Regions from separate parts of the Homo sapiens genome. Here region 2 is reported to be linked to region 1. Evidence: microRNA targets listed by miRTarBase, many of them from high-throughput screens and not tested one by one. Region 1 holds a microRNA gene; the other region holds the end of a gene's coding sequence.
The links. Region 1 holds the annotated microRNA hsa-miR-508-3p (UGAUUGUAGCCUUUUGGAGUAGA, at 1,346-1,368, shown strand). A microRNA usually pairs through its seed, bases 2 to 8, with sites in the 3' UTR of a target mRNA and lowers its output. Matches are read on the target gene's strand: a 7mer-m8 pairs with bases 2 to 8, a 7mer-A1 pairs with bases 2 to 7 and ends in A, and an 8mer does both.

Region 1 (4,284 bases):
TGCTGCTTTGAACATGGGGGCACTATGTCCCTTTGAAATACTGATTTCAGTTCTTTTGGGTATATACCCAATACTGCAATTGCTGAAATATGGTAATTATATCTTTAATTTTTTGAAGAACCACCATAGTGTTTTCTGTGGTGACTGTGCCATTTTACTTTCCTACCAGCAATGCACGGGGTTATAATTTCTTCACTTGTCAACACTTGTTATTTTCTGTTTGTTTGCTTGTTGATAATATTGATTCTAATGGGTGTGAAGTCGTATCACATTGTGGTTTTGGTTGCATTTCCCTAATTAGTGATATTGAGCATTGTTTCACTTATTTATGAGGTAGAATTGATTTTAGAAATATTTTTGTTTGAGTTTTGATTTATTGGTGTGTAGCTGTAGACTTGGGTCATTTTGGACTACTGACACTGGTGGAGGTTCCTGAATGCTGGGAGACCTGGACATGTCCAGATTAAATGTCCCACACCATAATCTCCCTTTCTCTTGCTCCATGGCAAGTAATTTAGCTAATCCTTTAATTTATTCAGTGCACCTCCCTCTCTCTTTACAGTCTTTTGTTTAACTTGGCTCCCTAGCTCTTAAAATATAACTAGTTTGGGGTCTGTGGATCTCTTACTCCTACTTGCTTCCCCCTTTCTTCAGCCTCAGTATTGAAAGGAAAAAATAGATTCCTGGGAGGCCTGTGTCTCCAAATGAAAATTTTGAAAGAGACCCTCTTGACAAGAACTCTAGGAAATGTTGAGAAAGTCCAGGGCTGAGAAGGAAGAATAAGATATAACTAGGTTCTAAGCCAATTGCTCTCTTGGAAATGATTCCAGGCAAGGTAAATGATCTGTATAATCCCCAGGAATGGTGGAGAAAATGAGATTTTTGTCCTATGAATCCTGGCACTGCCTAAATGATCTATCTCTTTTGCTTGAATTCTCTGCATGTTTACCTTGTTCTCTCTGTTGTTTTGGTGTTAAAAGTTAAATAACTCTGAACCAAGGGACTAGGAATTTGGGGGCACAGAGGGTGGGGAGACCTTTAACACTGGTGGAACACAAATCATTTTTAATATGCCATTCCTAATGACTTGAAAATACATAGGAAAATGTTGGTGAGATTATTTGTTGCCGACTGAAGAGAAGAAGTCCTCAAAATCAGCACATGAAATATGCAGCAAGTAAGAGTATCCTCACTAAAGGATGGTTAGAGAATGGGAATGGAGTGGCAAACATACTAGAAATTCTTCATCGTATCTAAACTTCACGTATATATTTGGGTAGAGCCACCACCTTCAGCTGAGTGTAGTGCCCTACTCCAGAGGGCGTCACTCATGTAAACTAAAACATGATTGTAGCCTTTTGGAGTAGAGTAATACACATCACGTAACGCATATTTGGTGGCCATGGGTGTGAGTGTATACAGCCGCATGCACAGAGCTGCCCTCCCTTGTGTCCAAGCACCACCCTCCCCTTGCTGGGCTAACTCAATGGACTCCCATAGGCAGGTCTTGAAAGGCAAATCCTAGGGACTGAGGGCTCCCAGGAAAAATCACCCATGTAGGCTTTCCGGGGATTTATATACCCTTGTCCAAAGGAGGCATGCCCACACAGGTAAGAAAATTTGTAGTGAGGATGTGGCTTTTCCTCTTTTTATATTCAGAGCTTCTACTGCTACAGAGCCCAACTATTCATTTTGCCTTGAAAAACCTCCAACGTATTTTTCCTCACAACATTTCTTTTAGCTTCCAAGCCTTTTCATTTCCCAGTGGGCTCTTCAAATTCCCTCCTGCCTCAGAAGCATCCCTCTGCACCAAAAAGCTCTTGCTCTTTCAGGATTGAAGACAAGCCTTTCCTTAAGAGTTTGTGTGTTCTTCCTTACTTGGAAAAATACATTATTTCCAAAATTATCTATCTGTTGGTTAAAAAAAAAATATATATATATATAAAATATTTATGTATATATTTTTAAAAAATATTTATATGTATATTTTAAAAAATATTTATTGAAAATATGTGTATATCAGTCCTTTCTAAATTCAACATATCTATAAAAGGTTAAGAAGTTGCCTAGAATATTTGTTTTGTTAGTTTTCTTTGAATTATATTTAACATTTTATTTTTAAAATTATATGAAGGAATAAAAAGAAGTGAAGGTATTCATCTCAGATTATTGAGAATGATAACATATATATTTGTCTTTTCCCTTCCACTTCCCTTCAGTTGCTCCTTCTTAACCTAAGGTCTTCAGAAAGAAAACTTGAGAATCACAGACAAAAGATGGCCAGCGCCGGATCCCTGGAGAACATCTTCAGACTGGAGCAGTGACTAGGAAGCAGGTTGTACACACTACGGTGCTGGAAAAATGGAGGTGGAGTGGGGTTGGAGGGTAATCATCCTGGTGACCCCTTCCGGATTAATTCTCATAAAGCACCTTAAGTGGGCAAGTTGAAGTTTATGGAATTTTGTTGTCATCTCGAGTCAGTGACATGTCTCACTCCGTTCCAAATCTTGGCAAAAATTTAGATTGTAATCAAGAGGAAGGGTATTCTTCTCTTATATCACTAATACTACTACATTATCGCCTGTGTACAACCAGTGTCTACTGCTCATGGTATCTTCTTCCCTATTTCATGAGCTCTAAGAGTTTTCCTGGGCAGAAAGTCTCACCACCCTAGATGTGTGTCTGGGGCAGTGACAGTGGCACCACTGCAAATTGTTCTCAAATTTGTGCTTATTTTTGAGAAGGTGTGAGTTTGTGTGTGAGTATGTGTGTGTTGGTTTTTACAAATGAGTTAATTTAGTTAGTTGATTCGTTCATGTGCATATTGTGGTTGGGTTTGGGGGGACTTTTCAAATTGTTTTTGCTTAGTAATATTGTTTATCCAGACATTGGTAACTGTCTGATTTTGGTTTTGTTTTTGTTTTTTGTGATATTATTTTGTTTATAATTGTCCTTTCATTTCCAGTCTCTGTGCATTTATTTTTCAAAGTTGGTTCTTCCTTTTTAGGTTTATTTGTTTATTTTGTTTGCTTGTATTATTATTTTTAACTGACACATAATCATTGTACATATTTTGGGGGTACAGTGTGATTTTTTATTGTTTGCAATTCAGTGTTCATGGCACCTCTGCTTGTTGTTTCGTTGCATACTTGAAGTTTTTTTTTTTTTTTAAGTTAGAATTGTGGTTTGTGTTTCAGCAAATGTTTTATTCCTGTTTCGGGGGGAGGGGGCTGTCATGATTTAATTATTAGTTGTTGGTTCCAATCTGAGTTTTCTTCTTTGGTTTTGATTTGGTTTTAATTTATGCGTTTGGTTTGATTTGTACTGAGAGGTGCTTGGGAGTTGTTTTAGTTGTAGTTTCCTTTGTGTATTTAGACATGTTTGTTTCTTTCCTGCTGTTTTGCTATATCTTTCTTTGTTTTATTCTCTAGTGTATTTCTATTTGCTTTTCAGCTGACTTTTTGTGTGTATATGTGAGTGGGTGGGTGGGTGGATGGATGTGGGTGTGTATGCGTGCATTTCTGTGATTATTTTTGAATGATGTTGACTTCTTTAAAGTATTTTGTTATTTTCCATGTATTTTTAGTTTCAGTTTGTGTTTATTGTTTTATTTTGTGTGTGTGTGTGGGGGGGGGGGGTTCTTCATTTTCCTTGTGTTTTGGGATATTTAAATTTGTATGAATTTTGTTTTGTTGCTGTAGTTATTTTTTCCCCTTTAATTGTGTGGGGCTCAGAAAGTTTTGTCTTTCATATATATGTGCGCTTTATTGGGGATGTGTTTTTTTTTTTAAGTTGTGGGAGTTTGCTTGGATTTTAAATGTTTTGCCTCAGTATCTGTGTGTATGCTTACATGGTTTGGTATTTGCAACATGCTTTCTAATTGATAAGTTCATGTATTGATTCTGTTTGGAATTTGTTGTAGTTGATTTATTTATTTATTTTAATCCTGTTTGTTGAGCTTTTCTAATTTGGGATGATTGTTGATAGGGGTTTAAAAATATATTATTGGTTTACTTTTTAGTTTTTATTTATTTGTGCCCTGTTTTTCTGATTCATTACTTTTTAAAAAATCATTTATAGAAGTTTTGGTACATAAGGCTAAAATTTCTTTCTTTTGTTAGGGATAATTTGCATTATTTGTTGATTGATTTTTTTTTTTTAGCTTATATGGTTTTTTTGAATTGTGTGTATGAGCATGTGTTTGTTATTTTGAGATTTTTGTATTGTGATAGCTTTAGTTCTTAAAAAGCGTCGTTGATACATGACTGACATAAAGTTTGCGCT
Region 2 (4,253 bases), not on the chromosome of region 1:
AAGAGATTGTCTTTAATTAACACTTGAGACTTCCAAGTTCTCTAAGCACTGTTAGCCTCATTTGTGCTCTTAGACATCGCTCATCTCTAGGCAGGAGCTAGTCTTTTTAAACAGAAACTCGTACCAGGTAGGACTTTGTCCCATGGCATGTGGCACAACAGATAACCTTTCCTGCCCACTCAGACTGCTTCTGCATGTGTATCTTTATGGCAGTTTATATGAAAGAACATGGTCAGTTGACTTCAGTTGCCCAATCAATTATATAACAGCTTTTTCCCCCTTTTCTCTTTCATAATCTCAGGTAAAATGCCAACAGTGGTGTCTCCGGAGTTGTACAGGACTAGGTTTTGTGAGGCAATGGACAAGTATTTCCTAATGGTACCAGACCACTGGACAGGCTTGGGTCTGAATTGCTGAAATCAAGCACATATTTTGAAATGGACTGTGAAGGAAAAGGGGACAGGAACAAAGGACCAAAAATAAGCTACATGTTTTATTTCTTCATCGTGTTCACCACTGTATGCCAAGGCTTTTCAGTTCTGTGGCTGTTTAGACTGTCCGTAATGGAATGGTAAAACTCCATGAATTTGCACTTTGGTTTTTGATACCTGTGGAGCTGTCTGTAGGTTGGGAAGTGGCATGAAAATTTTCTTAAGCTAAAATACAGACATGTTTCAAAGGGCTAAAGTTGGAGATGAGTAGATAGGGTGAAAAATGGGTTAAATTTGCTAGCTTAATTGTTTTAAGAAGAAAACAGTGTCTCATAAATTGACTATCCTGGCATCACATTTAACATGTTATCTACTTAGAAAGCATTTGTAGAGCTGCTGAATTTGTTTTGTGTTTTTCTGTAATAATTTAATGTTACTTATTATCAGAATTTCTGAAACCTTTACAAAAATTCTGATTTATTCCATTAATGGCCGGTTAAACACGTGGGCATTTATTGTTTTATTGAGGAATTTGACTTAAACTGGGAATCCTGTCATGTTGTTTATCTTTCCAGCTTGCCTGTTTTTGAGTATGTTTGATGTTTTTAAAATTTTGTCTTCTCTGTGGAAGACAGGAGGCTACAGCAATTAACTTTAAGCCTCCTTTTAGAGATATTTTTAAAACTTGTTTAAAATTTTTGTGCAATTCATATATTAAATTGCACTTACTTGCATACGCTCATATTCTAGGGTTTTTTCTCTATTTTTAGGGTATCATAGTAAATCATTAGTAAATGAGTCTGTAGTTACTAAACCCTAATGGAATAATTATTAATGAAAGATTTTTGAAATATAAAAAATAAATTAGGCCCAATCCAAGAAATTGAGTGAGAAGGAAACACTTGTTTTATTCACAGAGGTAAAGTGTCTTTTCAATATAACCAGCAATTTAGGTGGCATCTATAAAATAAAAAATTTCTACTGTGGACATCCCCTTTTCCAACTTTCTACATAATGGCTAGTTCTGACTACTAAGAAATGTTAAGAAATAGGCCAAGTGCGGTGGCTCACGCCTATAATCCTATCACTTTGGGAGGCCTAGGCAGGCAGATCACCTGAGGTCAGGAGTTCAAGACCAGCCTGGCCAACATGACGAAACCCCATCTCTACTAAAAAGACAAAAAATTAGCTGGGCATGGTGGCATATACCTGTAACCCCAACTACTTGGGTGGCTGAGGCAGGAGAATTGTTTGAACCTGGGAGGCGGAGGCTGCAGTGAGCTGGGATTACACCATTGCATTCCAGCCTGGGCAACAGAGCAAGACTGTCTCAAAAAACAAAACGAAACAAAAAAAGAAAGTTATTCTTAGTAAGGAACTTCTTGTTTAATAGCATTTTTGTTTATTTTAAAAAGTGATCAGAAGTAGTAAACTATCTTTGAGGAAATACTGTAACCCCAGAATATTTCCTCTTGACTTCTTTTTGTAACAAGGATAATTTAGGGATTTATAAAGTTGTAAGGATTTCACTGTTTTTGGACTGCCTATAATAATAGCACATTAACCTTCACATAATAAGAAATCTGGACAAGTTCAGTTACACAGTATGATGAATACTTGAATTAGGAACATTGTGGAAAATTTGCTTTAGAGAATCAAGGCAGTAGTTTGGTATTTGGTGCTTATTAAAAATGTGGTTTGTTTTGAACTGGAAGCAAGTTGACCAAGGACTTATGACTAATGTGATGCTAAGTTCCACTTGGCCCCTTTTAAAAACGTGTATGTGCCTTTTGAAGATACACAAAACACTGAGGATTTTAGTTTTGAAATCAAAGACTATTAAAGGAGCTGTACAGAGGTAAAAAAATAAATGTGGAACATTATTAACTTACTTTGTGTCTAGGAACAATGGATTTTGTATCTGATTTAAAATGCCAACACTGTTTTGTCTCTGTTCATTTTTTCTGTGAGGATACTTAAGGTTATTATTCCTGTCTGTTTCCTGTACTCCCCTAGTCATGAGCACTTGAAGTACAAGGTGTCTCCCCCTAGGTGCAATTAGGTTGTTTCTTTGTTTTTAGTTTCAATTCTATGTGCATAGCAGGAATGCTCCACAGGAATGGCTTCTGACAATAATCTGTCCTGTTGATTTTGTTTTCCTTGCCCATGACTTGAACAACTGTGTTTTAAAGTACTGTAGTCTAGTAGGTAACTTTGTGGCAAAAATTTTCAATATAATACATTCTGAAACAATAGTTGCTGCCTTGCAAAGGTAATCTCTCATTTTAAAATTGGACAGTATTAATGAAGGGGAAATATACAATTTATTTCTATTGAGTGGTAGAACTATATGTCTGGTCCCTTGCTGCTCTTGTTTAGGCCACTATCATAGATATATTTCAAATATTGTACTACTCAGTGTTAAGTATTGAATGACTGTTTCCCTTTCCTTCAAGGCCTAGAGTATATTCTGAAAATTTAGGAATGAGGAAGAAATCTTAATACTTCCTTCCTTAACATACAACATGAGTCCCGAGAATAATTGATAGTAGCAAGAGAAAACTATGTCAGTAACATGTTGCTTTGTATAAAAATCTTATTTATAAATGTGAAGCTTTTTGATGCCATCAAAACTTATTAAAAAATAGGATTTACTTTTTTCTAATTCTGACCTAAGAAAAATAATGAGAACAAGCTGTTGCAAGCTCTTTTGTAGTCTATTGAATATTTTATAGATATTCAAAATTTCCTACAAACTATAATTTTTTCCATGATTTAGCAGTGAGTGATTTTCTAGCTTTGGCTCTTATTAGGTATTGTAAATAGTAGGGTTATATCGATATCAGCTTTTGTGATGGCATTGTGGTCATCAGCTTCATGACATTTTACCCATTTGCAGTGATCCTGTGTAAAACTGCCAAGGAAAGTAATTACCTGTAGGAGTTTGCTGAGCTTGAAGAGTGAAAACTGTTGTGAATGAGCCTGATCATAAAACGGACCAGGCCATTCATTATTCCTCAAGTGTTAATATACTGACTTATGCAGTATTCAAACCATCTAGTGCAATGTTTTTGTTTTTGTTTTTTTTTTGGTAACACAGGTGCAGTGTATTATAGAAAAAATAAAAACTACAATCATTAGCAGTTTTAATACTGCTGTGTCAGTTTTGTAAAAAATGTACATTATGTCTTTTGACATGTTGAATTTTAAACTAGGGAAATGACATTGTAAATCATAGTAGCCTCTTTTAATTTAATATGAAAAATGCCACTATATTGAAAGTACTTAATGTATTGTATATATTTCTCTACTTTGGTTCTAGCTATTTTATATGATTGACATGTTATTTAAAAGATAACTGCCTTGAACTTTTGGAGACTTGTACTGTAAATAAAGAAATCTTAACAATAAACTCAGAATCTACTTACTCCACTTAGTTTTGAATCTGCTTGAAGAAATTGACAACAAAAGGAAATGGAGTTTGTCCTGCAAGCCTAGTCTTTGTGTTACTGGTGGAGGGTGTCCAGGTTCTTGGCGTTTTGAACAAAGAATTGGACAAAACACAAAAAGCAAGGAAAGAATGAAGCAACAAAAGCAGAGATTTATTGAAAACGAAAGTACATTCCACAGAGTAGGAGCCCAGGAGCACTGGGGCACAACAGCTCCCGTTACAGAACTTTCTGGGGTTTAAATACCCTCTAGGGATTTACCATTGGTTAGTTGGTGTACACCCTGTGTAAATTAATTAGTGGCCTGCAATCAGTGTGATTGGTTGCAGAAAGCAACCCATCAGGCTGAAGTGAAGTTACAAAGGTTAAACCC

Region 2: the mRNA of PIKFYVE is a reported target of hsa-miR-508-3p. Seed matches in the 3' UTR shown: 8mer at 3,561-3,568.

Annotation. Positions count from the first base shown.
Region 1 is chrX:147,234,029-147,238,312 of GRCh38, reverse strand. It overlaps MIR508 (microRNA 508), which reads left to right and starts at 1,286; the gene lies at 1,286-1,400. The region is part of intron 2 of LOC105373347 (periphilin-1); the gene reads right to left.
Region 2 is chr2:208,354,889-208,359,141 of GRCh38, forward strand. It overlaps PIKFYVE (phosphoinositide kinase, FYVE-type zinc finger containing), which reads left to right. Exons shown (of 42, transcript NM_015040.4): 42 at 302-3,858. The coding sequence ends at 417. Among named protein-coding and RNA genes, the nearest start is that of PTH2R, 50 kb to the right of the region's middle.